3 separate regions of the Homo sapiens genome follow, and regions 2 and 3 are each linked to region 1. Evidence: fine-mapped expression QTL. A gene starts in region 1. Each other region holds a variant in brackets. All regions are shown on one strand. Distances are between the middles of the regions. Region 1 holds the start of AP3S2 (adaptor related protein complex 3 subunit sigma 2). Region 2 holds the start of ANPEP (alanyl aminopeptidase, membrane). Region 3 overlaps ARPIN-AP3S2 (ARPIN-AP3S2 readthrough).

Evidence for each region. PIP is the estimated chance that this variant, and not a neighbour inherited with it, causes the effect.
Region 2: its variant is fine-mapped to the expression of AP3S2 in whole blood (TOPMed, PIP above 0.99).
Region 3: its variant is fine-mapped to the expression of AP3S2 in whole blood (INTERVAL, PIP above 0.99). The same link has a PIP of 0.9 or more in esophagus muscle.

The regions. Positions count from the first base shown.
Region 1 is chr15:89,887,708-89,898,075 of GRCh38, reverse strand. It overlaps AP3S2 (adaptor related protein complex 3 subunit sigma 2), which reads left to right and starts at 4,082. Exons shown (of 6, transcript NM_005829.5): 1 at 4,082-4,195; 2 at 8,936-9,027; 3 at 9,444-9,555. The coding sequence starts at 4,127. ARPIN-AP3S2 (ARPIN-AP3S2 readthrough) reads left to right here. Exons shown (of 10, transcript NM_001199058.2): 6 at 8,936-9,027; 7 at 9,444-9,555. It overlaps ARPIN (actin related protein 2/3 complex inhibitor), which reads left to right. Exons shown (of 6, transcript NM_182616.4): 6 at 1-3,070. It also overlaps the pseudogene RNU7-111P. RefSeq lists enhancers at 2,800-3,547, 3,902-4,051, 5,044-5,793.
Region 2 is chr15:89,809,098-89,819,465 of GRCh38, reverse strand. ANPEP (alanyl aminopeptidase, membrane) reads left to right here and starts at 4,614. Exons shown (of 21, transcript NM_001150.3): 1 at 4,614-4,694. RefSeq lists cis regulatory regions at 4,231-4,233, 4,251-4,280, 4,279-4,282, 4,190-4,318, 4,570-4,575 and 1 more, promoters at 4,190-4,678, 3,524-4,678 and enhancers at 4,546-5,045, 9,999-10,143. The variant T/C (reference allele first, on the strand shown) is at 4,579.
Region 3 is chr15:89,865,675-89,876,042 of GRCh38, reverse strand. ARPIN-AP3S2 (ARPIN-AP3S2 readthrough) reads left to right here. Exons shown (of 10, transcript NM_001199058.2): 8 at 4,497-4,568. It overlaps AP3S2 (adaptor related protein complex 3 subunit sigma 2), which reads left to right. Exons shown (of 6, transcript NM_005829.5): 4 at 4,497-4,568. Among named protein-coding and RNA genes, the nearest start is that of MIR5009, 13 kb to the left of the region's middle. The variant G/C (reference allele first, on the strand shown) is at 4,633.

The DNA of each region.
Region 1 (10,368 bases):
AATGGCTCAATCTCGGCTCACTGCAACCTCCACCTCCCAGGTTCAAGAGTTTCTCCTGCCTCAGCAGGAGGATTACTGTAATCCCAAGTAGCTGGGATTACAGGCCTGCGCCACCACGACTAGCTAATTTTGTACTTTTAGTAGAGATGCGATTTCACCATGTTGGCTAGGCTGGTCTCGAACTCCTGACCTCAGGTGATCCACCCTCCTCAGCCTCCCAAAGTGCTGGGATTACAGGCATGAGCCACAGTGCCGGACATTATGGGAAAATTTTTTGAGGGACTAAACTAATCTCCACAAATAGCAATGCATTTAGGAAATATATTTAAAGGGGAAAAAAAGACTCATAGTTTCACTCAGTCATGTTCATAATTTTTAGTATTTGGGTTTTTTAGCATGTAATTTGTGTACATAGTTTTGGTTTTTGTAAACTTGCATAGGGGTTTTCTGGTACAAACTGGAAAACCTGCTAGACAAATTCTGAAACATCTGTAATGCTTGTAGGTAGTTGTTGTAACACTATGCCCACACATAATCACTTTCCATATTGCTGCATAGTCTTTGTAACCATTTTTCTTCTTCTTTTTTTTGAGATGGAGTTTTGCTCTTGTTGCCCAGGCTGGAGTGCAATGGCGCGATCTTGGCCCACTGCAACCTCTGCCTCCCGGGTTCAAGCTATTCTGCTGCCTTAGCCTCCCGAGTAGCTGGGATTACAGGCACACGCCACCACGCCCGGCTAGTTTTTGTATTTTTAGTAGAGACGGGGTTTCACCATGTCAGCCAGGCTTTTCTTGAACTTCTGATCTCAAGTGATCCTCACTCCTCAGCCTCCCAAATTGCTGGGATTACAGGCGTGAGCCACCACGCCCACCTGTAACCATTATTTTTAAGATTGCTACCATTGGATAGTTCTGTCATGGTCCAACTTTTGGATATTTAAAATTGATCCCTGTGTGGCTAACAGAATTAATGTTTCCAAAAATGTTGAAAATTATATAGTTCTCTTAATTCCCCACCTCTAACTATATTTTTGGGTTATTTCTTTAGGAACAGATGCCCAGGAGTCATATTACTGAGAATCTAGAAATCTTTTGCAAAGTTCTTGTTATATTGCCAAATTGCTTCCCAAAAGGGTTGTTCTAAACCATAATTTCACCAGCAATGTAGGGGAGAACCATTTTTATGCTGCCCTTGTGAGAATTGGGTATGAAAACATTTTTAAAATGATTTTTGATGAGGTGAAAATAATATTTGAATATATTTTAATTTGCCTTTCCCCCACTTATAGTGAGCTTAAACATTTTTTCCTTTTCCTAGCTGTATTTCTCCCTTTGTTATTCGTTCTTTCGTCCATTTATCTACTGGGGAGATGGGGAGTGTTATCTTTTTAGTTTATCAGTTATTTGCATTTTAAATATAACCATTTGCCATATTTTAACAACGATTTTTCCATTAAATAATTCTTTTTATAAAAAAACTTTATATATCTGTTGATGTTTTGTGATTTTTATTGCTTCTAAGCTAATACAGATTTTTGGATCTTATTCAATTTCGCTTTCTTCTGTTTAGGTTATTATCTGGTTTTATACCTAACTACTTATTTTCAAATTGCTAACCAGTTATCCTAATAGTATTTACTGAATTCCTTCCCACTCCTACATCACATATTAAAATTATTTTATGCCTAAATTATTTATAATATTTCAGTTATTCTTCCTATAATTACAATTTGAACCATCAAAGTAGGTTTTCATAGTTGGCAGAGCTAGTTCTTCTTCATAATTCTGTTTCAGAATTTTCTTTGATATTCTTCCTCAACATTTTAAACATTTTGTCAAGTTTCAGTGCAACTGACTTTTGGTTTTTATTTATTTAAAAACTGGGCCATGCCGGGCGCAGTGGCTCACGCCTGTAATCCCAGCACTTCGGGAGACTGAGATGGGTGAATCACTTGAGGTCAGGAGTTTGAGACCAGACTGGCCAATGTGGTGAAACCCCATCTCTACTAAAAATACAAAAATTTGCTGGGCATGGTGGCATGTGCCTGTAATCCCAGCTACTGGGGAGGCTGAAGCAGGAGAATTGTTTGAACCCGGGAGACGGAGGTTGCAGTGAGCCAAGATTGTGCCACTGCACTCCAGCCTGGGCAACAGAGTGAGACTCCATCTCAAACAAACAAACAAACAAACAAACAAAAAACTGGACTAGGCGTGGTGGCGGTTTGGGAGACTGAGGCTGGAGGATTGCCTGAGGCCAGCAGTTTGAGGTTACAGTGAGGTATGACTGTGCCACTGCACTCCAACCTGGGTAAGACCCTATCTCTGAAAAACAAACAAGCAAACCCCAGAACTCTGGCTGCAAAAGTAGTACATATTTCTTTGAAGGAAAAAAAGGAAAACTTGATAATCCTACCACCCAAAGATGTTTTTAAATCACTTATGTGGTACTCAGTTATGTGCCATGCACTGTCCAAGTGCTTACAAATATTATACTAACTCCCTTTGTGTTTATAACAACTGTCTGAAGTCAGTAGACTCATTTTCCAGTTTTCCAGTTTAGGAAACTGATATTACACCTTTTCTACAGATGGGGAAACTTGCCCAGGGTGCCCAGGCAGTCCGCAGAACCATGCTTTGAATCAGGGCAGTGTGGTTCCAGGGTCCTGTACAGATCAAACACCCTGACTCTGCCATTCCATCAGATACATGATTCATATTTTGGTGTATTTGCCTCCAATCTTGAGCAAAGTGGGTTGTCCCTGTACATACTTTGTGTAATCTTTTAGCTTAACAGGTGTCATGAACACTTCCGTATCATAAATCTTTCCCAGCATGATTTTTATTATCTATTTAATATTTCTCATATTCAATGTAGAACAATGCACTTAACCAATTTCTCATTTTTGTAATAATTTTCTTCCCATTTTCCCCTGTAATAACACTGCTGAGATATATATTTTTTTCTTCTTTTTTTTACTGTTCTGAAGATACTCTGGCAGAAATGTATGTTCCTCAGGCTAAATCTTTTCACACATCCACAATCATTTTATCATAAATTCTAGAGCTGGAAACGCTGAGTCTAATGTTTTATATATATATATATATATGTTATATATCTGTCACCCAGGCTGGAGTGCAGTGTGGTGTGATCTCAGCTCACTGCAACCTCCGCCTCCCGGGTTCAAGCCATTCTCCTGCCTCAGTCTCCCAAGTATCTGGGACTACAGGCGCGCGCCACCACAACCGGCTAATTTTTGTAATTTTAGTAGAGGCGGGGTTTCACCTTGTTGGCCAGGCTGGTCTCGAACTGCTGACCTCAAGTGAGCCGCCCGCCTCGGCCTCCCAAAGTGCTGGGATTACAGGCGTGAGCCACCGCGCCCGGACTGTTATATATTTTAAAGGCTTCTGATCCATATCGCCAAACAGTCCTCTGGATCGATTTGCATCTGTATCCGCTGCTCCATCTGCAGTATACGGACATGCTCCACTTCACCCACACTGGGTCATTAAAAGAACAAACAAAAATAAGAACTTGATCGATTTGGGATTTTAAATGGAAATGCACTAAAAATTCCTTAATTCCACCATTCACCGTCTACCATAGAGGAACAGCCCATCTGCACGGAGAGACAGCTACGTAATTCACTGCAGCATTATAATACTGAAAAATTAAAATGAACGAAATGTTCCATAACCGACGAACGGCCGAATGACCGGCGTCTCCACTCCGCGGAACGTTCTGCGAGCGCTAAGGGGATGGCGGGAGTGCATGATTTGGAGCGGGCGGTGAGAAAAGCAAGCTCCCGCCGCCTCTCCGTTTTGGCAACCCGGCTGACGGTCGTTTCGGCTTCTGGGGCCAGCCGTCGGTCTGGGCGAGGGACATAGATCCGGATTCGCATCCTGACTGGCCAACCAACGCTGGCCGAGGTGACCACTCTCCTCGGCATCCGCACCTGCCCTCCAAGGCGTCAGAGAGGCCGGACCCTTGGGTGCTAGGGCTCGTGAGCGCCGGGGCCAAGTTTCCGAGTGCCGCTCTCAGCAGCGCACCAACCGGAAGTGATCGTGTTGTGGCGGAAGGAGGAGCTTTCTGGGAGTAGCCGGTGCTGAGAGAACCGTGGCTGGCAAAGATGATTCAGGCGATTCTGGTTTTCAACAACCATGGGAAGCCACGGCTAGTCCGCTTCTACCAGCGTTTCGTGAGTGCGGCCCGGCTTCACCACGCCCCTTCAGGGCGCCCACTATGTCTTCCCTCCTCTTTGGCCTCTCGGCGCCCGGGGGCACCGCTCTTTGGTCACCTGGGGCTCCTGCACCGAGCATGACCCTCGCCCTACTTAAGCATTTAATCTAGGCGCAGGCTGGTGCCAGGCCTTCTGTCTCCCGCCCTACTGCCCCGCTCTCGCTGACCCTTTTCTTGATCCTGGCATTTCTGTGCCATTTTGTGACATTTTCCCGTGGGTCTCTGGGAACGAGATAGAAGCGACAGTGGGGAGTGTGCCTCGATGAGAACTTGAGTGATTGAAGTCACATTCTGTCATCTTTTTGGTTGTTGACCACAGTTTCATGAGGAAGAAATATTAAGTTTCTGAAAGTTTTTGTTATAGCCAGAACTGGAAAAGTTCTTTTTTTTTTGGAATTATTTTGCTTCAGTGTTGGCTGGGACTTTCCAGAGACTAGATACCCTTCACTCTTAGGGTTGAAGAAAATCAGTTTAAAAGTGGAAAAATGATGAGAAATTATAAATGCTGCCGCATAAGGGCTCAATAAGTGATTACGTAAATTTGAATTTTCCCAACACGTTCCTTTGCAAACACATAAACATCAGTATTTGCTTCCTGTCTTCGAAGATTATATTTCTTCATGGCAGGGTTTCAAAATGTTACATAATTGGGGGACTGGTGGAACTGAAGAGGGGAAAGAGCCAGAAAACGTGTTCAGGCTTCAGCTCCACCTTTTCTACTCTTGCGTCTGTTGACAAGTTAATAAACCCTTTTCAGACTTTTATTGTCTTTTGTCAATTAGAAATGAAAAAATAATTTTACTCCTTCATAAGATTTTTAAAGCTAGATTACATTTTATTAAGTAGATTACATCGAGGTAAAAATATGAGTATTCAGGCCGGGCGCGGTGGCTCACGCCTGTAATCCCAGCACTTTGGGAGGCCGAGGCGGGCGGATCACGAGGTCAGGAGATGGAGACCATCCTGGCTAACACGGTGAAACCCCGTCTCTACTAAAAATACAAAAAATTAGCCAAGCGCGGTGGCGGGCACCTCCAAGTCCCAGCTACTCAGGAGGCTGAGGCAGGAGAATGGCGTGAGCCCGGGAGGCGGAGCTTGCAGTGAGCCAAGATAGCGCCACTGCACTCCAGCCTGGGCGAAAGAGCGAGACTCCATCACACACACACACAAAAAAGTATATATATATATGTATGTATATGAGTATTCAGCGTAACTATTTGTATTTGCATTTGTGTGTATGCAAATTTCCCCCCTAGTTTTTTTCTAACAGGGTTACTGAGATAAAACTAACATGCCATACTGTTTACTTATTTATTTTATGTTATTTACTTATAGAGACGGGGTCTTTCTATGTTGCCCAGGCTGGTCTTGAACTCCTGGGCTCAAGCAATCCACCGGACTCAGCCTCCCAAAGTGCTGGGATTACAGGCATGAGCCACTGTGTCCGGCCCCAGTTTACTTATTTAAAGGGGACAATTCAGTGTTTTTTAGCATGTTCACAGAAGCTGTGTAACCATCACCACAATCAATTTTAGATCATTTTCATCACCCCAAAAAGAAACCTCTGCCCATTAGCAGTCACTCCCTATTTCTCCATGACTCTCCCAGCCCCAGAGAGTTTCTTTCCCTCTAAATTTGCCAGTTCCAGAATGGCAAATGGAATTTGCCTATTCCGTTGCCTATAAATGGAATCATAAATAAGTGGTTTTTTGTGTGTCTGCCATGTTTCATGTAGTATAATGTTTTCAAGATTCATCCATGTTGTAGCATGTATCTGATGTTCTTCATTTCTTTTATTGCTGAATAATATTCCATTATATGGATATGCCATATTTTGATTGTCAATTTATAAGTTGATATTTCTGCTTTTTGGCTCTTCTAATTAATGCTGCTATGAACATTCTTGTGCAAGTTTTTATGTGGACTTATGACTTCATTTCTCTTGGTTATATACCTAGGAGTAGAATTGCTGGATCATATGGTAACTGTGGTGAACATTTTGAGAAACTGCAAACTATTTGACAAATTTTCCAAGTGGCTGCACCATTTTACATTTCCATCAGCAATGTATAATGATTCCAGTTTCTTCACATCCCTGCCATTCGTTATTTATTTATTTATTTTTGGTTAAAGACATTTTAGTGGGTGTAAAGTGGTATCTCACTGTGGCTTTTTTTTTTCCCTCCGAGACTGAATCTCACTCTATCTCCCAGGCTGCAGTGGCGTGATCTCGGTTCACTGTAACCTCTGCCTCCCGGGTTCAAGTGATTCTCCTGCCTCAGTCTCCTGAGTAGCTAGGATTACAGGTGCCCACGACCATGCCTGGCTAATTTTTGTATTTTTAGTAGAGATGGGGTTTCGCTGTGTTGGCCAGGCTGGTCTCGAACTCCTGACCACAAGTAATCTGCCCGTCTTGGCCTCCCAAAGTGCAGGGATTACAGGCGTGAGCCACCGCACCCAGCTCATTGTGGTTTTGATTTCAGTTTCCAAAATGACTAATGATGTTGAGCATCTTTTCATGTGCTTATTGCCCATTCGTGTATCTTTGGATCATAGGATTTTTATAAGACCTCATGAGCTCATGGATGAAAGTACCTTGAAAACTACAGAGTACTAAAAAGATATGAGGGGTTATTAAAATCACTGAGGCATGTAAGCAATTGGTAGTTTACCTTTTTATTGAACTAGAAATTAGGTAGCCTCATCATTTCGTACCACTTCCCCACTGCTGCCACTTCCCCCAGAGTCAGATAAAAGGCTTTAGTTCAAAAGATGTCTTTGTCAGTTTTAAAAAGTGCTGATGCTTAGCATGTTTTGTATTTTGCATATATAGAGTTCGTCTCCTACAGCATCCTGTCATCTGTGAGCTTTGTTTGTTCTTTAAATGGAAATGAGGAAAATAGTGATTAATTTACTCAAATTTGTAGTGACCAATGATTAGCAAGTTTTCATTCAGTCAGTAAATACTGTGAGCCATTCCATACCCATGTGAGTCAAAGTAATTTCCCCACAATTACGTTTTCCCTTTTTTCCCCTCTCTGTTTCTTTTAAATAACCATTTCAAAGCTAAATTCAGGGCTATAGAAAGAAAGGGATTAAAATTACTTGAACCTATTTTCTAACTCTTGGGGCAAGTCCAATTTGAAGGTTTTCTTATGATTCGTTACTCAAAGTGTGGTCCCCAGACCAGCAGAAATGTTATTGCCTGGGTGCTTACTAGACTTGCATCTCAGGACTTAACCTATACCTGCTAAATCCGAATCTGTATTTTAACAGCATTCACAGCTGATTCATTGCAAATGAAGATTTGAGAAGCAATGCTCTAGAGCTTTAAGTTATTATCTGTCTTAATTGCTGGTTTCTCCCTCTCTTACCCTTTTAACCATACTTCTTCTGAAACTCATATGTATAATTAGAAATCAAAGGTGAGTTATCAAAGTGATTTCATCAGAGTTGAGCTTTCTTATGCACGTAGTAAGTGAAAAAATAAGGCCAGACATGGTGGCTCACACCTGTAATCCCAGCACTTTGGGAGGCCAAAGCAGGTGGATCACTTGAGGTCAGGAGTTCAAGACCAGCCTGACCAACATGGTGAAACCCCATCTCTACTATAAATACAAAAATTAGCCGGGCATGGTGGCACATACCTGTAATCTCAGCCACTGGGGAGGCTGAGGCAGGAGAATCGCTTGAACCCGGAGGTGGAGGTTGCAATGAGCTGTGATCACACCACTGCCTGGGCAACAGAACAAGACTCTGTCTAAAAATAATAATAATACATTTTATTTGTAACTGTTCAAAATTTTAATCTGTAATCTATTTTTCTCAATAATACTTTGTTGGTGAGTAACACAGCATCTTATATGTAGTATCTATATTACCAGTACAAAAGATGGCAGCTGTATTTGCCAATATAACTTTTTAAAACATTTACATGATTACTTCTTGACCTTTTTTTTTTTTTTTTTTTTTTTTTGAGATGGAGTCTCACTCTGTCGCCCATGCTGGAGTGCAGTGGCGTGATCTCGGCTCACTGTAACCTCCGCTTCCTGGGTTCAAGCAGTTCTCCTGCCTCAGCCTCCCGAGTAGCTGGGATTACAGGCATGCGCCACCACGCCCAGCTAATTGTTTTTTTGTTTTATTTTGTTTTGTTTTTTTTTGTATTTTTAGTAGAGATGGGGTTTCACCATATTGGTCAGGCTGGTCTCGAACTCCTGACCTTGTGATCTGCCTCCTAAAGTGCTGGAATTTCAGGCGTGAGCCACTGTGCCTGGCCCACATCTTGACCTTCTTAAAATGTTAGACCTGTTGAGATTTATTATATCTTTGTCATAGATGTTTTCCAGGGGAAGACAAAATATTTCAGGATCAGGCCTTCCAGTTATTCTCTGACTTTGTATGAGAGTTTATCAATGTTCCTTTTCTTGTTTAAATATCAGCTTACCTATAGGACAGTAATGGTTAGTGACTTAGATATTTAGGTAAATATACCCTATCTTAATTCCTGTATCAGAGCATTGTCACCCATCTTTCATAGATTCACTCCTATTTTTTCTCATCATTTTTATCATTTCTAGAAACAAGTACTAAATGTTTAGATGTTCCCAGCTTAGAAACACTTCTTCCCTTGTCCATCCCCATGGATGGGATGTAGTTTTTCAGGCTTGCCCACTGATTCACTTATCTTTTTGTTTCATAGCCAGAAGAAATTCAACAGCAGATTGTTCGAGAGACTTTCCATCTAGTCCTCAAGCGGGATGACAACATCTGTAACTTCTTGGAGGGTGGAAGGTAAACTGTCAGCTTCATTTTTCTCCCCATATATCCACTTGTGAGTGGCCTTCATTATTGCATCTTCTGACAGTACTCAAGTGTCAGGTGGGTACTTGATGCAACTTTAGCTGGTCTCACCATGATCTGCTCAGGGAGAGACACAATTCTCTTTGGGGCGCAGTTCAATTATTGTGCTTCTGATATTGCTCATTTAGATGATTGATCCCCGGGAGGATAGGCAGGAGAAGAGGTGAGGTAAGGTGGCTTTAGGTACCTCTGCCAAACTTGGTTGCCATTCACCTAGTAAGAATGGCCTGCTTCTAGCGTTTGGCCTTCTCCTTTCCAGTGGGTCCTTTCTCATTCTTTGGCACAAGGTTTCTTTTTGATGTGTTTAATTAAGCTGTGGGCATTTAAATGTTTCCCATCTTCTGCAGTTTGATTGGTGGCTCTGACTACAAACTGATCTACCGGCACTATGCTACCCTCTACTTTGTATTTTGTGTGGATTCCTCAGAGAGTGAACTTGGAATCTTGGACCTCATCCAGGTATGTGTAGTCAGCTAATGATGGCAGCAGCTTTAGAGAGTTTCCACGGGATTTTTGAGTAACCAGCCTGTAGAACCTTGTGTCCATCTCCTTATTGATACTAGTAAAAGTTGCCAGATGTCCACCAGATGGTGCTCTGGGAGAGCTCCTGAGAAACCCTCAGCACTTTTAGATTTATTGGTTTCTATCTAGCCCTTGCACTGCCCTTGGTTTTCATTTACAAATTTATACTTTGGCCGGGTGTGGTGGCCCACAGTCTGCTTACAGATTGTCTTTATTACCTTCATGAAAACTGAGATGTGTAGGGACCCTAGCTTGGGAACTATTTATTTAGCATTATTTCATCGTTTTATATGTGAGATTCTAGATGAGCTTCTTTTAAGTACTTGAATAAGCCCATAGGTAGAAAGCACTCAAATAGATGCTACATTGAAAACTTAAGTAACAACAATTGTGGAAAAGAAAATTCTATAGCTATAAAATGTAAACTTTAAATGCTTACAACAGGCCAGACATGTACATTTTACAGCTATAGAATTTTCTTTTCCACCTATGGGCTTATAGGCTCATGCCTATAATCCCAGCACTTTGGGAGGCCAAGGCGGGCGGATCACTTGAGGTCAGGATTTTGAGACCAACCTGGCCAATGTGGTGAAAACCCATCTCTACTAAAAATACAAAAATTATCCAGGCATGGTGGTGTGCACCTGCAGTCCCAGCTACTCAGGTGGCTGAAGCAGGAGAATTATTTGAACCTGGGATGTGGAGGTTGCAGTGAGCCGAGATCATGCCACTGCACTCCAGCCTGGGCAA
Region 2 (10,368 bases), 79 kb after region 1:
CTGACTTCTCCACCCCTTCTGGATTAGGTCAAAGCAAACCTGAGACATCAAATCATTTCATCCACAAATATAAGTTTATAATTTTTATTTATTTTTTTTTTGAGAAAGAGTTCTGCTCTTGTCGCCCAGGCTAGAGTGCAATGGTGCGATCTCAGCTCACTGTAATCTCTGTCTCCTAGGATCAAGTGATTCTCCTGCCTCAGCCTCCTGAGTGGCTGGGATAACCGGTGCCTGCCACCATGCCCGGCTAATTTTTGTATTTTTAGTAGAGACAGATTTTCACCGTGTTGGCCGGGACTCCTGACCTCAGGTGATCCACCTGACTCAGCCTCCCAAAGTGCTGGGATTGTAGGCATGAGCCACTGCGCCCAGCCAAGTTAAAAAAAGTTTTTAAAATAGAGATGGGGTCTTGCTATGTTGCCTTGGCCTCAATCGATGCCCCTGCCTCGGCCTCCCAAAGTGCTGGGATTACAGATGTGAGCCACCTCACCTGGCATTCAAATTTTTATATTATAGCCAGGCGCAGTGGCTCACGCCTGTAATCCCAACATTTTGGGAGGCCAAGGCAAGTGGATCACCTGAGGTTGGGAGTTTGAGACCAGCCTGACCAACATGGAGAAACCCTGTCTCTACTAAAAATACAAAATTAGGTGGGTGTGGTAGCACACGCCTGTAATTCCAGCTACTCGGAAGGCTGAGGGAGGAGAATCGCTTGAACCCAGGAGGCGGAGGTTGCAGTGAGCCAAGATTGCGCCATTGCACTCCAGCCTGGGCAACAAGAGCAAAATTCCATCTCAAAAAAAAAATTATATTATAAAGCCTGTTAATCTTCTGGTCTTTCGTCTTCACTTTTAATTTTATTTATATTTTGATTAGACACGGTATTCACATGGTTCAAGATTCAAGAGAACAAAAGGATATGCTGAAAAATGCGTTTCCCACCCTGTTCTCCAGCTCCAGTTTCCTTCCTGGGAAACAACTCGTGTTATCAGCGCGTGCACATATAAAAGCAAATTGTGTGTCTCTGTGCTTTTTCCATTTAAGTACAATTGATAAACGACTTGAACACGGCTCTGCGTCTAGGTTTTATTACTAAACAACCTGTCCTGGGGAGCGTTCTGTAAGGAGAATCCTAGTTATTTTTGATAGCCATATGCATTCCATTGCAGGGCATACAATAATCATTCATTTATCCCATCTCTATTGGTGGACATTTAGGTTGTCTCCAGCTATTAGATTGGTGCAAAAGTCATTGTGGTTTTGGCTCAATGTTGCAGCGATGCAGTGGAAAGCCTTGTGTATTCCTTTCACTTACGTGTGAGCATTATCTGTAGGATAAATTTCTGGAAGTGCCAAGTCAAACAGGACATGTGTTTATATGTTTGATAAATACTGCCCAAATATTCTCTTTTGAGGTCGAGTCAGTCTACACACCAACCAGCAATGCAGGGGGTTGCCTGTTTTCCTCCCACCCTTGCGAATAGTGTGTTACCAAACTTTTTTTTTTTTTTTTGAGACAGGGACTCACTCTATCGCTCTGGCTGGAGTGCAGTGACACGATCATGGCTCACTGCAGCCTTGACTTTTCAGGCTCAAGCAATCCTCCCACCTCATTCTTCCAAGTAGCTGGGACTACAGGCACGTGCCACCACGCCTGGCTAATTTTTTTTTTTTGGTAGAGACAGGGTTTTGCCACGTGGCCCAGGCTGGTCTCGAACACCTGGTTTTAAGTGATTCTCCTGCCTCAGCCTCCCAAAGTGCTGGAATTACAGACATGAGCCACTGTGCCTGACCTACCAAACTGCTTTTTATCTTTGCTGATCTGGTAAGTGAAGAATAGTATCTTTTGTAGTTATAATTTTCATTTTCTTAATAAGTGAGTTATTGAACATCTTTTTACATGTTTATGAGCCCATGAATTTTCTTTCTGCAGGAGCAAGCACTGTCTCTTCATCTTTTTTTTCACAGGGGGTGGACAGAGTCTCTCTCTGTTACCCAGGCTGGAGTGTAGTGGCGCAATCTCGGCTCACTGCAACCTCCACCTCCCGGGTTCAAGCGATTCTCCTGCCTCAACCTCCCCAGTAGCTGGGATTACAGGCACCCACCACCATGCCCACCCAATTTTTGTATTTTTAGTAGAGACAGGGTTTCACTGCATTGGCCAGGCTGGTCTCGAACTCCTGACCTCGTAATCTGCCTGCCTTGGCCTCCCAAAGTGCTGGGATTACAAGCATGAGCCACCACGCCCAGCCCACTTAGGCTATTTCTGATTTTCCAGTATTATAAGTAATACTGCAGTGAAAAGCCTTGCATATAAATATTCTATTTCCTTAGGCTAAATTTATTTATTTTTTTGAGACAGTCTTGCTCTGTAGTCGAGGCTGGAGTGCAGTCATGTGATCTCAGCTCACTGAAGCCTCTGCCTCCCAGGTTCAAGCGATTCTCGTGCCTCAGCCTCCCAAGTAGGTGGGACCACAGGCATGCGCCACCACACCTGGCTGATTTTTGTGTTTTAGTACAGACACAGTTTCACCAGGTTGCCCAGGCTGGCCTTGAATTCCCGACCTCAAGTGATCCACCTGCCTTACAGGCATGAGCCACCACGCCCAGCCTCTTCAGGCTAAATTTCTGAAAGTGATCTTCATTCCTAACCCCAAACTGCCCTCCAGAAAGCTGGGTTGCACTTCTGCCACAGCAGGATCTTTACTCCTCTTAAAATCTCCGCGGAGCCTGGGTGGGAGAGGCAGAGCTCCGGGGGGAAGATTCTCTCCTGGCCTGATGTAGTGTTTTCCTTGGCTTGTCAGACATGGAGGAGATTATGCCAGATATGATAGTGGAGAGAGTCAGACATGCATGAGACTGGAGAGAGAAAAAAAACAAAATAGCCTCTGAGGTCTCACTCACAGCCTACTTACTCTTACTTTACACACAATTCTATATTCCGATATGTTTGTGACCTGGTTTTTAAGAGTACAGAGCAAATTAGGAAGGAGAAGCAAGGCTGCTACCTAGAGGTACCCTGGTCCTCCATGAAGTTTCCAAAAGAAGAGCAAGTGCAAGTAAAATAATAAAACACAGCCAGTCACAAAGCCATCAATTTGGACCATGCAGTGCAAGGCTTTAACTGTCCCAAGGATTCCAATCATGGATAAGGAAGAGCTTAAATTTGATTATAAATCTGAAAGTCTGGAAGTCAGCTTGAATATTGTGGTAGACATAATCATATCCTCCTCCTCAAAAGATGCCCTGGTTCTAATGCCCAGAATCTGTGAATATGTTATGCTACCCCACGAAGGGAAATTACAGTTGCAGGTGGAATTCAAGTTGCCAATCCATTGATTTAAAATAGAAAGATTACCCTGGATTATCTGGGTAGGCCCGATGTAATCACAAAGATGCTCACCAGTGGAAGCAAGAGGCAGAACAGTTGGTGTCAGAGTGACAGATTGTGAGAGACTGGTGGGCCACTGCTGGCTTTGAAGATGGATGGGGCCACCAGCCAAGGAATGTGGGCAGCTTCTAGAAGCCAGAAAAGCCAAAGAAACAGGTTCCCTTCCAGCCTCAAGAAAGCTGTATCCCTCAACCCCCTTGCTTTTAGTCCAGCGAGACCCATTTTGGACTTCTGATTTTACAAAACTTGTAAGATAGTAAATTAGTGTTGTTTTATGTTTGTGTTACGGCAGCCACAGGGAACCAATACAAATATTATCTGGTACCGCCCATTAAAGCTGCTCAGAGACAGGGAGCCCCACCCTGGCGGGGCTCCGGTGGCTGCACAACCTCTGCAAGCAGGATCAAGATGAGAGGCGCAGGCCAGGTGTGGTGGCTCACTCCTGTAATCTCAGCACTTTGGGAGGCCAAGGCGGGCGGATCACTTGAGGTCAGGAGTTCGAGACGAGCCTTACATGGTGAAACCCTGTCTCTACTAAAACTCCAAAAATTAACCAGGCGTGGTGGCGTGCACCTGTAGTCCCAGCTACTCGGGAGGCTGAGGCAGGAGAATCGCTTGAACCCAGGAGGAGGAAGTTGCAGTGAGCGGAGAAAGTGCCACTGCACTCCAGCGTGAGCGACAGAGCGAGACTCTGTCTCAAAAACAAATAAAGGAAAAAGAAAAAAATGAGAAGCGCGTGTTCCCGACTCCGGTGCTTTTTCGCAAGGTCGTGCTACTGCGCCTTCTGAACTACGAGTCCCAGGTACCAAGAAAGTTGAATTGCGTGCTGTGGCGGGTCCGTTATCTGCACCACCCGTCTGCACGGGATGCGCTGGCTTCCTGCCCCGGATGCACAAGGCTCCCTGCGGGACACTCAGGGCGAGGCTCTGAGCCCCTCCCCCGCGGCAGATGCCGTCCAGATGTGGCCGGCGGGTCCCGCGGGCTGCGGCGACAGGGACCCCGTCGGGGGCAGCAGGAGCCCTGGTGCATCCCAGGCCCCGGGGGGAAGGCCGGGCCGTCGGAGGAGCGGAGGAGCCCTGGGGGGCTCCCGGGAAGCCGCGGGCGGACGGGGGAGGAGCCCGGGCGGAGCTGCGGGCGGGCGGCCCGCTAGGGGTGAATCGGGTGGAGTAGTGGTCGGGTCCGGTTAC[T/C]TCCCTTTAAAAAGACGGGAAAGGAGGAGTCCAGTGCTGGAGGGGCAGGGACGGCGGCGGCGCAGCTCGGAACCCGCCAGGGTCCAGGGTCCAGGTTCCAGCGCCCGGCGGCCCAGGCAAGTGGGGCGGGAGGGCGGGGGCTGCGGGCGCGGGTAGGGGTCGTGGGGCAGTTGGGTGCGCGGGAACCGAGGGAGCTGCAGACCCAGCGCTTGGCGCGTGCGGAGCTGGACTTCTGCGGCCGCGACGCCCCTCTTCCCAGATGGGTAAACTGAGGGCCAGGGAAAGCGAAGAATTCTTTTGGCCGAGCTCCCACTACGATCTCGCGGTCAAGTGGGTCCCCAGCGGGCCTCGCAGGGGTCGGAGGGGCTCCCATCTGGGGAGGGGGCCCCAGGGTGGGCGAGGGCGACGGGAGCCTGGGGAGGACGGACGGGGAGGGCGGCGGAGCGGAGCTAAGCTGCGGCGGGTGGACCCGGCTCGGCCGCGGCCACTCTGTCCCTGGTGGGTGGGGCGCGGCCGAAGGCAAAGGGCGAACCCGGCCCGCCTGTGGGGTCTCTGGCCAACACTGGGCTCAGAGGCCCTTTCTTTAACCTTAGATCTCGCTCCTCGGTCTAAAGCCTCCGCCGCAGCTCTCAGTGAAGAGGAAGGGGAACTCTAGGTGCTCAACGCCCGCGTTACAGTCGCGTTCTCCCTCGCTCCTACAACCCGGCCAAGATGCCGGGGCATGGATGGGGACCGAGGTTTGGGGGTTGTGGAGCCTATTCCACGCCCTCCCTGGTGAGCAACTGAGACAGATCCAGGGCCCCATTGCAATCCACTCTTGGTCTGGGAAAAGGTCCCCTAAACAGGGCCAATGGGATCCTTTCCCCAAATGACTCCAGAACGCACCCCCCCCCCCCAGCAGTGCGGTGGGCAGGGACGGCCCAGGTGGGCTATGTCCTGGGGTTTTGTGACTGGATCCCCACTCCTCCCCCACCTCAGCCCCTGGACTGCAACCCACCAGGCCGTGTTCGGGGGTGGTCAGAGCCCTGGTCTCAGCCAGACCTGAGGTCTGATGTGGCTTCATCCCTGAGTCTCTAAACGCCCTGGCCTTACTGGGCCTCAGTTAATTCACCTGTGAAAGGGGAGGCTTGGACCAGAGGGCCCCTCAGGGTATGTGTTTTGTGGAGGGGAGGTGGGCGTGTGGGGTAGGGGTGACCAGGAGGAAGTGGGGACAGCCTCTGTCCCACAGGAAGGCTGGCTAGCCCCAGTGGGTATGGGGGAGCTGGGCAGGGAAGAGGGTGGACTCCCCTCTCCCTGTGGGAGGGTGTGCTGGGCCCATGAGGCCCTCATCCACTCTCAGCCACCTTCCTGTGGAGCCCTAGCCTCGAAGGCCACACTATGAGTGCAAGGAGGCCACCCACAGCGCTGCTCCCGCTTCACAGGTGGGGAAACCGGCCCAGTGTCTTGAGGCAGCCCAGCCGCCTGCCCTGTGCTTCCCCCAGAGCCTTCTGGGGAATGAGACCTTCGTTACACGCTGGCGCTCCTTACACCCCTACAGCCTTTAAGCTAAGGCCTCCAGCCCCATCGCTGTAAGAATTGTATGCTAGGCATTCTGAGGACATAGATGGGGGTCCCCATGTCGGAAGGAGCCAAGGTGTTGGAACTGGGTCCAGTTCCTGGGCTGGCTCTGGTGGGAGATCTGGAACCCTATGCTGGGGCTCCTGGACAGCCCTGGAGGCATGGCATGGACAGTGTGTCAGCCGCACACCGAGGCCCTGGGGTGTCCTTATTCACATAGGCTGGCAGCCATCTATCCCTAGCCCGGGCTTCACCCCGGGTGCCTGTCACTCCTGGCCCTACAGTGGTCCCAGTCACACCTTGGAGGCAAGATGTGGGTCCTCCACAGGCCTGTGTCTGGAAGCAGCCCCCAGCACTCCCTGGCTAACAAGTTCTACTTCTGAGAACTACCCCCAGCTCCCAGCCCTGGTCTGGCCAAATGGGTGCGTGTCTTCTCCTGTGGTCTTCAACTCCCCTTGGCACGGCCACAGTAGATGTGAGGGGCTGTATGGGAGGACATTTTTAGGAGGCATATGTAGTTAAGCTGTGGAACCTGCTGCTAACTAGCTGTGTGGCCTTGGGCAAATCACTTAACCTTTCTGTGCCTCAGTGTCCTCATTTGCCAAATGGGGGTGATTATCCTGGTAGGGCACATAGTAGGTGCTCAGTTTCACCTACCATGTGTCTCACCAGGATAATCACCCCCCATTTGGCAGACAGGAGTTGCCAGGCAGGATCTGTGGCCCCACACAAACCCTATGTGTACTTCCCCCACCCACAAATGCCTCTGCTCCTTCCTCCTGTGTGCCCTGCATTGGGCTGAAGAGGCTGATGAGAGGCAACTTCCCATTGGGGCCTTCTGAGGTTCTTGCAGGAGGGGCAATGTCCAAGGCTCCCAGAGGAAGCACCCTGGGGTGATGCAGCTATGGGCGGAGGCCTCAGAAGCCTGGGAGAAAGCCAGGGGCCTGCGGGGACAGAGTGTGCCCTGGCCCAGGCCCAGCCTCGTCCCTACCCTTCTCGCTCACTGCTCCCTCAGAGCAGACAATGAGCCCCAGGTTGTCCCTGAGCTCCCAGTCTCATAGTTCACAGTCAGGGACACTGAGTGGGAGTGGGTGGGGCCTACCCAAGGACCCAGTGGTCGGGGATGGAGCATGGATAACACAGCAGCTCACCCGGCCACGGGTGCTCAGCTCTCCCGGCCACAGCCCCTCCCAGGCTCCTGGAGTCTTCATATTAGAGTAGAAAGCCTCTTGCACTTCACATCTGAGACCAAGGAGCCTCTCCCCACCCACAAGTGTGGGTGTCTTCCACACTGTGACTGTGACTTAGTTATGCCCTGGCATGATCGTTGTCAACCTTCATGTTTTTTGGTTTTGGCTTTGGTTTTAGTTTAGAAGAACTTACGTTTTCTGGACTAAAACATAGGCAGGGAAGAAATACATAAACCCATAGAAAGGCTGCTTTAGTTGAAGTGGGTTGAGAGCTCGGCTTCTACCCCGTCAAGAAATTCACAGCGAAAGGAACACATGCATTTTGCTCACTGGCAGAAAGAGCCTGCACCAAAGACAACCCGCAGGGCCAGCAACCCCAACATCATACAGGGTGGAGCAGCAGTTCCCAAAGCGGGTGCAACTGGACAGGATCCTTTTAGGAGCTACCTAGAGGAACAATTTTTTCTTTTTTTCTTTTTTTTTTTTTTTTTACTTGAGATGGAGTCTCACTCTGTCGCCCAGGCTGGAGTGCAGTGGCACGATTTCGGCCCACTGCAACCTCCGCCTCCCGGGTTCATGCCATTCTCCTGCCTCAGCCTCCCGAGTAGTTGGGATTACAGGCGCCCACCACCACGCCCGGCTAATTTTTTGTATTTTTAGTAGAGATGAGGTTTCACCGTGTTAGCCAGGATGGTCTCGATCTGCTGACCTCGTGATCCGTCCGCCTCAGCCTCCCGAAGTGCAGGGATTACAAGCATGAGCCAACACGCCCGGCCCAGGAACAATTTTTAAACCAATAGTCATGAATTGTTAATATAAATTAACACATCCAACCATGATTTTATCGCTCAGAAGGAGGCTAAGAAAGTGAATTGATTTAAAGAAAAATACGAAGTAAATAATCACAAAGGTGGATCACGAAGGTGGTTTGTGCACAGCCCAGAAGCCCAGGAAGGAATGTCGGGTAGAGAGGGTGGAACCTGTCCCGAGGATCAAGGCTCTGAAGTTCCATCCTTAACTGCTGTCTCTCATTCTTGCACTGATGCCCCATTCCACAAGCACGTGTTGCCCTCCCACTGCACGCCAGGTGTAGAGGATACGGCACACCTGGTGCTACCCTCATGGAGGCACTTGGAGGGCTGCCTGGGGGCAGCACCACTGACTTGTGTCTCCAGGGCAAGTGGGGAGTGGATGAAGCAAAGGCAGGAAGCTTTCCAGGCCCAAGGATCAGCTTGTGTGTAGGGAGGAAGGGAGAATGAAGCGGGGAAAAGCAGGTTGGATTTGAACTGAAAGAGGCCACTGGGGTGGAGCACAGAAGTGACAGGGGAGAGCGTTTGAGATGAGGCCAGAGAATCACTGGGGGCTGGATCACACAGGCCCTGTAGGTCACGGCAAGGACTGTGGGTGTTGTCATTCATTTGGCCAACATGTATTGGGCTCCTGCCTTGTGCTGGGCATGGAGGGGCATACGATGCCACCAGGCCTTCCTTTGAGGTGCTTGGGTGCAGCAGCAGGCTTTTGAACACACTGGTAGCATTTTTCTTTTTCTTTTTTTTTTTTCTTTTTTGAAACAGAGTCTCGTTCTGTTGTCGTCCAGACTGGAGTGTAGTGGCACGATCTCCGCCCACTGCAACCTCCACCTCTTGGGTTCGAGCGATTCTTCCGCCTCAGCCCCCCAAGTAGCTGGGACTACAGGCGTGCGCCACCACGTCCAGCTAATTTTGTATTTTTATTTATTTATTTATTTATTTATTTATTTTTTGAGACAGAGTCTTACACCGTCCCCCAGGCTGGAGTACAGTGGCACAATCTCGGCTCACTGCAACCTCTGCCTCCCGAGTTCAAGCGATTCTCCTGCCTCAGCCTCCTGAGTAGCTGGGATTACGGGCACCTGCTACCATGCCCAGCTAATTTTTTGTATTTTTATTAGAGACGAGGTTTCACCATGTTGGCCAGGCTGGTCTCCAACTCCTGACCTCGTGATCTGCCCACCTCAGCCTCCTAAAGTGCTGGGATTACAGGCATGAGCCACCGCGCTCAGCCTCAGTGGCATTTTCCTAAGTGCTGTGATAGAGGTGGGAACTGGAGACTGGGGAAGCGCAGAGGGGAGTGGGGGCTGGTGTGCATGATAAGGCAGTGACATTGAGTTGGGTTTTGAAGGATGAGTAGGAGTTTGACAAGAGGGAGAGGAAAGGCATTCCTGGCAGTGGGAACAGAATGAGCAAAGTCACAGAGGTATGAAAAAGCCCCGATGATCTGGGGAGACGCTGGCAGCTGGAGCCACAGTGGGCAGTAGAAAGAGGACAGGCCAGAGGGTCAAGTTCACAGAAGGTATTAAGGCCCAAGCCAGAGTTAAGGTTTCACTCTGCAGGTTGGGCACCAGGTTTGAATGGGAGAGTCCCACCCACACTCTTAGGCAGAGCCCTCTGCTGACGTGTGCTGGTGGGGTTGGGTGACAGGGGAGGGTAGCATAGCCGCCACTGCCCGATGGGGTGTGGAGGTGGCCAGGCCTGGGCTGTGGCAGGGGACTGGACGAGGGAAGCCCTTTTGTGTGTTCCTGAAGGTGGGGGCTGCAGAGCATGGCTGTCTCTGTGCCCCCAGCCTGGGTTGGCCTGGTGCCTAGAGCAGGGACCTCTCATTATAGAGCCAACTTTGGGCTACCTGCTGCACCAACTTGGAAGACCAGAGGCCTTGTCCAGAAGAGTAAAGATTCCAGCCAGCTGGGCCTATGGTCTGAATCCAAAGCAAACAGGAAGAGAGTATGGTGGGCCAGGCAGGGCCTCTTTCTTTGTTTAGAAAAGGGATTAGTCCAGGCCGACTTGTGGGTCTTTCTGCTGCAAAGGTGGGAGGGGGCTGCAGGCTCCGTCAGGGACATATCAAAAGGCTTTTCAGGGGCAGGCATGGTGCCCCAGTGCCAGCCTGGGGGGTGCTGTAAAGATGGGCTCCCTTGGCGAATTCCATCCACCCTGATGGGAGGAGCCTGGCAGCATGTGCTGGGAGCCACTGCTCCTTCTCTCACCACGCCCAAGCTGGAGCCCTTCCT
Region 3 (10,368 bases), 22 kb after region 1:
TTCACGAGACCTGTATCTTGAGTGACTTCTGCTTCTTGATGGCTTTCTTTGTGTTTGTGTCTGTCCTCATCATTTTCAGATGAATGTATTTATTTATTGAGACAGCATGTCACTCTGTTGCCCAGGCTGGAGTGCAGTGGCACAATCACAGCTCACTGTAACCTCTGTCTCCCCGGCTCAAGCTTCTCACCACAGCCTCCCGAGTAGCTGGAATCACAGGCACACACCACCACGCCTGGCTAACTTTTGTGTTTTTTATAGAGACAGGGCTTTGCCATGTTGCTCAAGCTGGTCTCAAACTTGTGAGCCCAAGCAATTTGCCCACCTTGGCCTTCCGAAGTACTGAGACTACAGACGTGAGTCACTGCGCCCAGCCCATTTTCAGATGAATTTAGTCCCTCTCTTCCTTTATCAGAATAATGTTCTTTGTCATTATGCTCCTCAGAAGTGTATTTCTTAGAGGATTTGTTGTAGGATTCCTGTCTTCTTGCCTCATCATGAAATAGGCTTATTATTTTCCTACCTGAGTCTGCAATGTCTTCAGTTCAGCCTCTTTGCCCATCAGCATGCGCTTTGTGTTTTCGTCCTTCGTTTTCTTTCTTGTTTTCTTTCTCTTGACCTTGATTGTGATCTTGAATAATATTTTGAGTAAGAAAAACAGATGCATCTGACAGTTCTTTTTCCACCCACTATCTGGGGATGTCTTTTTCTGGGGCTAGTCCATCTTGTCCTGGATAACTACCCTATCTTGAGAACCCAGTCTTAGTTTCATGAAACATCTTTAATGAAAACAGCCTTTTGGGATGGTGCTGCTGCAAACTGTGGTCTGGCTCTCCTCGCATGTGCTCTGGCTGCCGCAGAACAGAGCTCAGGCCGCTAGGGGGCACCTCCACGTGCCGCTTTTAGCAGTACCAGCCACCTCAAAGCTTTGCCACAGACTGAATAGCTCCTTCCGGGGGCCTGGATGGCACCCAGGGGATCTGCCGTTGCTTTTTTAATTTATTTTTTTACATTTAGCTCATTAATATCTGTTAGATATTTTTATGTCTGCATTGAAATATGTAACTTTATTTTTCCCCCAAAGGATAACTGTTCCAACATTATCAGTTAGCTTGTCTTTTCCCCACCAACTTAAAATACGACTCTTATTTTTAAAATTGCATTTTATAAACATGTATGTTTCAGTAATTTATATTCTGCCCCACTGATCTATATTCCCATCTTAGAATTATACTTTTATTTTATTTTTAAAATTTATTTAGAGACAAGGTCTTGGTATGTCACTCAGGCTGGAATGCAGTGGTGCAATGATAATTCACTGCAACCTTGAATTCCTGGGCTCAAGCAATCCTCCCACCTCAGCCTTCCAAGTAGCTGGGACTACAGGTGTGTGCCACTATGCCTGGCTAATTTTTTTATTTTTATTTTTTTGTGGAGACGATGTTTTGCTATGTTGCCCAGGCTGGTCTCAAACTCCTGGGCTCGAGGGATCTTCCTGTCTTGGCTGCCCAAAGTGTTGGGATTATAGGCATGAGCCACCTCACCCAGCCTTAGTATTATACTATTTTAGTTAACAAAGCTTTACAATGAATTTTGATACCTAGAAAGACTGCACCCAGGTGAAATAAACAGCCTTGTTTCTCACACAAAGCCTGTTTGGTGGTCTCTTCACATGGACACGTGAGACAGATTTCGCTAGGGAAGCAAATAACCATGGAGGTGGGCAAGAAATATCCATGATTGTAGAGCTTTCAATCAGCCTTTTATTCTTGTAACAAATGAAAAACAAAGGATTATCAGACATCTGCGGAAAACCTCTAACATAGAAGAAGGAGATAAAATGAACAAACAATAAAAAGCAACTTAAAAATGGACACCATATAAAGAAAGGAAAACAGTTTAAAAAAAAAAAAAACCCAAAACCCTATTCTTAAGCTACAGAGAAAGCCTGGCCAACATGGTGAAACCCTATCTCTACTAAAAATACGAAGTATTTTAGCCAGGCATGGTGGCACATACCTGTAGTCCCAGCTGCTCAGGAGGCTGAGGCAGGAGAATCACCTGCACCCGGGAGGCTGAGGCTGCAGTGTTCTGAGATCACACCACAGCACTCCAGCCTGGGTGACAGAGTGAGACCTTGTCTCAAAAAAAAAAAAAAAAAAAAAAGCCACAGAGAAATAAGACATTTATTTTAAATAATAATAAGACCCATTTATTAATTAGAAATAAAATAAGACCCATTTATGTCTTATTGCTAAATGGGTGCTAAACAAAAACACTCACAGCCTTGTTGCTCACACAAAATGAACAAAATGGTCTCTTAGAAATAAAAAATGAGAGGAAATGGAAACAAACAAAAACCCACTTCAACTGAAGTATTAGAAAATCAAGTTAATCAATTGTCTCAGAATGGGCAGAGATGGAAAATGGGAGAGAAAAGATGAGAAAATAAGACAGAGGCCGGGCACAGTGGCTCACGTCTGTAACCCCAGCACTTTGGTAGGCCAAGACAGGGGGATCACTTAAGGTCAGGAATTGGATATCAGCCTGGCCAACATGGTGAAACCTCGTCTCTACTAAAAATACAAAAATTAGCCAGGCGTGGTGGTGCATGCCTGTAATCCCAGCTACTCAGGAGGCTGAGGCAGGAGAATTGCTTGAACCCAGGAGGCAGAGGCTGCAGTGAGCCAAGATCGTGGCACTGCACTTCAGCGTGGACAACAGAGCGAGAGTCTGTCTCAAAAAAAAAAAAAAAAGAAGACAGACAGAGGTCCAATACTTGAATATAAGCAGCTCCAAAAAGATTGATTAGGAATGTGGAAAGGAGGGAATTCTCAACAAAATAATTCGATAAAATTTCCCAGAACTGAAGGACTTGAACTGCAGGATTATAAGGGCTTACCAAGTACCCAGCATAGTGATTGAGAAATAGACCCATTTAACTATGTGTCCTTATAGTGAAATATTCTGGCACTGTTAAAAATGTAAAGATTTATGAATGGCACTAATATGAAATTATTGTATGTGGTTTTTGGCATACATGTATATATCTGTTAGATATGTTATCTGGGAGTAGAATTCCTAGATCATAGAGCATGCATACATAATGTCATAGTTTTCCAAAATGGTTGGTATCTGGCAAAATACAGTGCACTGGTTACCAGTCTCAAGAAAGGAATCTAAATGCTCTTGCCCATTGCATCTTGGTATCAGAGTCGGCAAGGAAAAAGTGCAAACACTGGATAAAGCTTTACTTACATAGAGAAGAGACAGAGCAGGATCAGCTCCAATAGTGTGCGTTGGTTCCTCATGGCAAGTGGGTCTGTCTCCCCAGCAGCCGCTGCAGGGTGGTTTGCCTATGAGCACCCATCTTGTGCTACAGTGGAACGGTGTGCCTGGTCTCTGTCACTTGCTGGCCTCAAGTAAGACCCATTTTCATGCAGTGCCGAACAATTCATGACACTGCTGACAATGAGATTGTTTAAATGAGGTCATTGTCTGAGAGAAATTAAACAGTTATAGATAGATACCTAGGTTGTAGTTACATGGTGTGTTCATTCTGAAAATTCATTAAACTGTGCCCTTGTCATTTGTACACTTTTCTGTTATGTTTTATTAAAAGTTAAAAGGTTCTATAGAGAAGTAAGCTCAGGGCTTTTAAAAAAAAATTTTAAGTTGTAAACACGTCAATTAAATTTATTCATAGGAAGGTATTTTGTAGGCTAAATAACTGACCAAAAAAATTAAAAAGGGAAGATGTTTTGAAGTTAATTTTGGCTGAAATTAAAACACAGCTATGTTAACCCTGTAATAATGAAAAATTTTTTGTACATGTATTCATTGAGGACATAGTATTGTAAGTAGTTGGTTTTTTTAATTTGTTATTCTTTTATGTAATTTTTTTTCTTTTTTCTTTTTTTTTTTTTGAGAGACTCTCACTCTGTCACTCAGGCTGGAGTGCAGTGGTGCGATCTCTGCTTATGGCAACCTCCACCTCAAATGATTCTCATTCAAGCTATTCTCGTGCCTCAGCCTCCCAAGTAGCTGGGACTATAACAGGCTCGTGTCGCCACACCCAGATAATTTTTGTATTTTTAGTAGAGATGGGTTTTCGTCTTGTTAGCAAGGCTGGTCGTGAGCTCTTGGCCTCAAGTGATCCTCCTGCCTTGGGCTCTCAAAGTGCTGAGATTGTAAGTATGAGCCACCATGCCCTACCATAAATTAGCATCTTATAAAGGGGGAAAGAGCCACATGTGTCTGCTGGTTGTGTTGCTATGCTGAAAACAAGGTTTTCCTGTCCTAGATTATTCCCTCTAAATCGAGATAAGTAGGGTGATCAGCTAATGCTGGAGACAAAAGGTAGGTGTTTTAATTTTTGAGATTTATCATAAAGTAAATAGTATTGTGACAGCCCCTTTTACTTTCAGATGTGACATTGATAAAGCTGTGAATGTGTTCCTATTTCTCTTCTTTATCTATTTCTCCTTGTTTTCTAGGTTTTTGTGGAAACTCTGGATAAGTGTTTCGAAAATGTGTGTGAATTGGATTTGATCTTCCATATGGATAAGGTATATTCTCTTGCAGTTCTCTTCCAAACTAGGGTTACTAGAAAACCAAGAGCCTTGGGCATCT[G/C]TAGCCACCTCTACATCTTCATATTGTTTCTTGTTTTTTTTTACTCTTAAGATAGTCCTAGAACATGTTTTATTTAATAGATTTAATAGTTTGGGTTTTGTTTTGTTTTTGCTAAGATCTACTAACAGTTTTAACGTGCATAAGATTATTACTAGGCCTATATCGTGGTTCATCTGTTCACAGACTGATTTCTTGATATAGGAGAATGATGTCACTGGCTACTTGGCCAAAGGTGAGATAAATAGTTTTATGCTGATTATAAAATTAGTTTCCTAGTCATAGGCCAGTGACAATGAAACTTTGGAATAATCATGACGCAGGGGCTTTGACTTAGATAGTAAAATTTATATCTTTCCTAAAGAGTAATATAGTGACTAAGAGATCTGTAATGTAATTCAAGGTCAGGTGATATTCTATAGGAAGGTAGACTATCAGAGGCAGAATTAAAATGGCCCCAAGTAGGTGTTCTCAGATTTGTTTTGCTAGGATAACTGTGACATGGCCTATGTCCTCATATGCCAAATTAAACTTGGGCAATAGCCAGCAAGGGAATAGGAATTGCCATGTTTATTTTATTCAACTTACCACATGCTGTCCCCTGTGCAGTTTACTGGTGCGTCTTTGGTTTGCTTGGTCCTGGTTTTTCTTCAACTGATTGTTGTCATTATGATCCCTGGCCCTTGGAGAGAGATGATTTTTTAGGAGACTGCTGCTCATTGCTAAGCCATGATCCTTTATTAACCTTTTCATCATGATGAAGTAGGAGTTTTTAGATCCATCGTTGCTAGCATTGCTGTCTAAAGGACTTTCTTGTTGTTTTTCAATAGGGTCTTCAGTCTTAGTTGACTCTGTTGAGGTTGGCAGATCCCCACTTTCCAGGCTAATGTAGTGAATGCATTCTTGAGTTTGGATGACATTAGAATGGAGTAAAGTTTTGTCTCTCACCATCTGACATGGCTCTGTGACTCTATCAGCATCCTAGTGCAGGAACATCATGGAACCCTTTTCCTTCTTTAGATACTTAACTTTGGACTCCCTGACAACCTCACGGGGCTTCCAGTATTTACTGATGCTTTTGAGTCACCCTCCCTTTCATATGAAAGGGTTGTATACTTTTTGGAAACTTCAGCGATCTCTTAGCACCCTTTCTTTGCAAGCACTTAGAGTTGTTTTGTACTTTTCATATGTTAAAGATTTGCTATTTTGCAACTTCTGTCAAGGAGAGCCATAGCTCAAATCTAGTTCCCTTTTGTACTAGAGGAACTAGAGTCCCTTTCAAGTATTAAAGAGACTTGAAAATATAGGGGGAATGGAGAGGTGCCTTCTGTAGGCCTTATTGTTATGATTTTAAAATAATATTGTTAAATACAGGCCGGGCGTCGTGGCTCACACCTGTAATCCCAGCACTTTGGGAGGCTGAGGTGGGCAGATCACTTCAGGTCAGGAGTTTAAGACCAGCCTGGCCAACATGGCAAAACCTTGTCTCTACTAAAAGTACAAAAATTAGCCAGGCGTGATGGTGCACGCTTGTAATCCCAGCTATTCAGGAGAATCGCTTGAACCCGGGAGGCGGAGGTTGCAGTGAGCCGAGGTCGCGCCACTGCTCTCCAGCCTGGGCAACAGAGCGAGACTGTGTCTCAAAAAAAAAAAAACAACCAAATTGTTAAATACAAGGTGTTACTTTCGAAGTTACCACCTAGTGTGCAAAGTGGGTTCTTTGAAGATGCCACCTGTTGCTCACCAGGCTGCAAATGAATTTCTTAACATCTCAGGTGTAGATTCAGGGATTCAAGGATAGATTTTACTAGGAAAGGGGGAGTTTTCTTTTTTTTTTTTTTTTTTTATTGATAATTCTTGGGTGTTTCTCACAGAGGGGGATTTGGCAGGGTCATGGGACAATAGTGGAGGGAAGGTCAGCAGATAAACAAGTGAACAAAGGTCTCTGGTTTTCCTAGGCAGAGGACCCTGCGGCCTTCCGCAGTGTTTGTGTCCCTGATTACTTGAGATTAGGGATTGGTGATGACTCTTAACGCGCATGCTGCCTTCAAGCATCTGTTTAACAAAGCACATCTTGCACCGCCCTTAATCCATTTAACCCTGAGTGGACACAGCACATGTTTCAGAGAGCACAGGGTTGGGGGTAAGGTCACAGATCAACAGGATCCCAAGGCAGAAGAATTTTTCTTAGTGCAGAACAAAATGAAAAGTCTCCCATGTCTACTTCTTTCTACACAGACACGGCAACCATCCGATTTCTCAATCTTTTCCCCACCTTTCCCGCCTTTCTGTTCCACAAAGCCGCCATTGTCATCCTGACCCGTTCTCAATGAGCTGTTGGGCACACCTCCCAGACGGGGTGGTGGCCGGGCAGAGGGGCTCCTCACTTCCCAGTAGGGGCGGCCAGGCAGAGGCGCCCCTCACCTCCCGGACGGGGCGGCTGGCCGGGCAGGGGGCTGACCCCCCCACCTCCCTCCCGGACGGGGCGGCTGGCCGGGCAGAGGGGCTCCTCACTTCCCAGTAGGGGCGGCCGGGCAGAGGCGCCCCTCACCTCCCGGACGGGGCAGCTGGCCGGGCAGGGGGCTGACCCCCCCACCTCCCTCCCGGACGGGGCGGCTGGCCGGGCAGAGGGGCTCCTCACTTCCCAGTAGGGGCGGCCGGGCAGAGGCGCCCCTCACCTCCCAGACGGGGCGGCTGGCCGGGCGGAGGGCTGACCCCCCCACCTCCCTCCCGGACCGGGCGGCTGGCCGGGCAGAGGGGCTCCTCACTTCCCAGTAGGGGCGGCCGGGCAGAGGCGCCCCTCACCTCCCAGACGGGGCGGCTGGCCGGGTGGAGGGCTGACCCCCCCACCTCCCTCCCGGACGGGGCGGCTGGCCGGGCGGGGGGCTGACCCCCCCACCTCCCTCCCGGACCGGGCGGCTGGCCGGGCAGAGGGGCTCCTCACTTCCCAGTAGGGGTGGCCGGGCAGAGGCGCCCCTCACCTCCCAGACGGGGCGGCTGGCCGGGCGGAGGGCTGACCCCCCCACCTCCCTCCCGGACAGGGCGGCTGGCCGGGCGGGGGGCTGACCCCTCCACCTCCCTCCCGGACGGGGCGGCTGGCCGGGCAGAGGGGCTCCTCACTTCCCAGTAGGGGCGGCCGGGCAGAGGCGCCCCTCACCTCCCAGACGGGGCGGCTGGCCGGGCGGAGGGCTGACCCCCCCACCTCCCTCCCGGACGGGGCAGCTGGCCAGGCGGGGGGCTGACCCCCCCACCTCCCTCCCGGACGGGGCGGCTGGCCGGGTGGGGGGGCTGACCCCCCCATCTCCCTCCCGGACGGGGTGGCTGGCCAGGCTGAGGGGCTCCTCACTTCCCAGTAGGGGCGGCCGGGCAGAGGCGCCCCTCACCTCCTGGACGGGGCGGCTGGCCGGGCGGGGGGCTGACCCCCCCACCTCCCTCCCGGATGGCACGGCTGGCCGGATGGGGCGGCTGGCCGGGTGGGGGGCTGACCCCCCCCACCTCCCTCCCGGACGGGGTGGCTGCCGGGCGGAGCCGCTCCTCACTTCCCAGATGGGGTGGCTGCCGGGCGGAGAGGCTCCTCACTTCTCAGACGGGGCAGCTGCCGGGCGGAGGGGCTCCTCACTTCTCATACGGGGTGGTTGCCAGGCAGAGGGTCTCCTCACTTCTCAGACAGGGCGGCCGGGCAGAGACGCTCCTTACCTCCCAGACGGGGTCTCGGCCGGGCAGAGGCGCTCCTCACAACCCAGATGGGGCGGCGGGGCAGAGGCGCTCCCCACATCTCAGACGATGGGCGGCCGGGCAGAGACGCTCCTCACTTCCTAGATGTGATGGCGGCTGGGAAGAGGCGCTCCTCACTTCCTAGATGGGATGGCGGCCGGGCGCAGACGCTCCTCACTTTCCAGACTGGGCAGCCAGGCAGAGGGGCTCCTCACATCCCAGACGATGGGCGGCCAGGCAGAGACACTCCTCACTTCCCAGACCGGGTGGCGGCCGGGCAGAGGCTGCAATCTCGGCACTTTGGGAGGCCAAGGCAGGCGGCTGGGAGGTGTAGGTTGTAGTGAGCTGAGATCACGCCACTGCACTCCAGCCTGGGCACCATTGAGCACTGAGTGAACGAGACTCCGTCTGCAATCCCGGCACCTCGGGAGGCCAAGGCTGGCGGATCACTCGCGGTTAGGGGCTGGAGACCGGCCCGGCCAACACAGCGAAACCCCGTCTCCACCAAAACCAGTCAGGCGTGGCGGCGCGTGCCTGCAATCGCAGGCACTCGGCAGGCTGAGGCAGGAGAATCAGGCAGGGAGGTTGCAGTGAGCCGAGATGGCAGTAGTACAGTCCAGCTTCGGCTCCGCATGAGAGGGAGACCGTGGGGAGAGGGAGAGGGAGAGGGAGAGGGGGAGGGGGAGGGGTAGGGGGAGAGGGAGAGGGAGAGGGAGAGGGGAAAAGGGGGAGTTTTCAAAGCAAGAGAAGAGCCCATGGAGAGGTGTATTGAGGTGTCTCTGCTGGAATGACTCCCATCACCCACCTCCTCCAATGCTGTCTTTTTTATCAGGCACCTGTGAGAGTAGCTTTGCTAGTGGAGAGATAGGCAGAATGCTTAGACACCACGAAATCTGTATTTGTGTGCCAGCTGCTTATAGATGTTGTCTAGGGGCCGGGTGCGGTGGCTAACGCCTATAATCCCAGCACTTTGGGAGGCCTGAGGTCGGGAGTTCGAGACCAGCCTAACCAACATGGAGAAACCCCGTCTCTACTAAAAATGCAAAATTAGCTGGGCTTGGTGGTGCATGCCTATAATTCCAGCTACTCAGGAGGCTGAGACAGGAGAATCACTTGAACCCAGGAGGCAGAGGTTGCAGGGAGCCGAGATCATGCCATTGCACTTCAGCCTGGGCAACAAGAGCAAAACTCCATTTCAAAAAAAAAAAAAAAGGAAGTTGTCTGGGAATGCCAGCTGCCCAACACCTGGAAACTTAGGGACCTGTGGGATAATACACACCTGGAGAAGACAGCTGTAGGTGCTGTGGGAAGTTGTGCTTGGGTGCAGCCCCTCTCACTGGGAGAAGGGGTAGCCTCCCAACCCCCTAGTCTAAGCTAGTTCATTGTCTAGGCAACGTGGAGTATACCTCCATGGTGACTTTTTTTTTTTTTTTTTTTTGAGACGGAGTCTCGCTCTGTTGCCCAGGCTGGAGTGCAGTTGTGTGATCTCGGCTCACTGCAACCTCTGCTTCCCGTGTTCAAGTGATTCTCCTGTCTCAGCCTCCGGAGTAGCTGGGACTACAGGTGCCTGCCACCATGCCCGGCTAATTTTTGTATTTTTAGTAGAGACAGGGTTTCATCATATCTGTCAGGCTGGTCTCCAACTCCTGACCTCAGGTGATCCACCCACCTCAGTCTCCCAAAGTGCTGGAATTACAGGCGTGAGTGAGCCACCGCGCCCAGCCTCCAAGGTGACTTTGAAAGTCAACATTTGTTGTTTTGTGTTTTACCTTCTTTGCTCCGTGTTATTTGTAAGAATCACCCATTTTGTTACATGTGGCCTTAGGAAGTTTAATTTCATTGCTGCATAGGATTTCATTATATGAATTTATCCATTCTATGACTGATGGAATTAGATTGTTTTGAGTTTGGAGCTTTTATGAAATATGTTGTCATGAATATTCTTGAAAATGGATGCTATTGTACATTTTTGTACATTTTCTTGAAACATCTATTTCTCTTAACAGTGCAATTCCTGGGTCATAG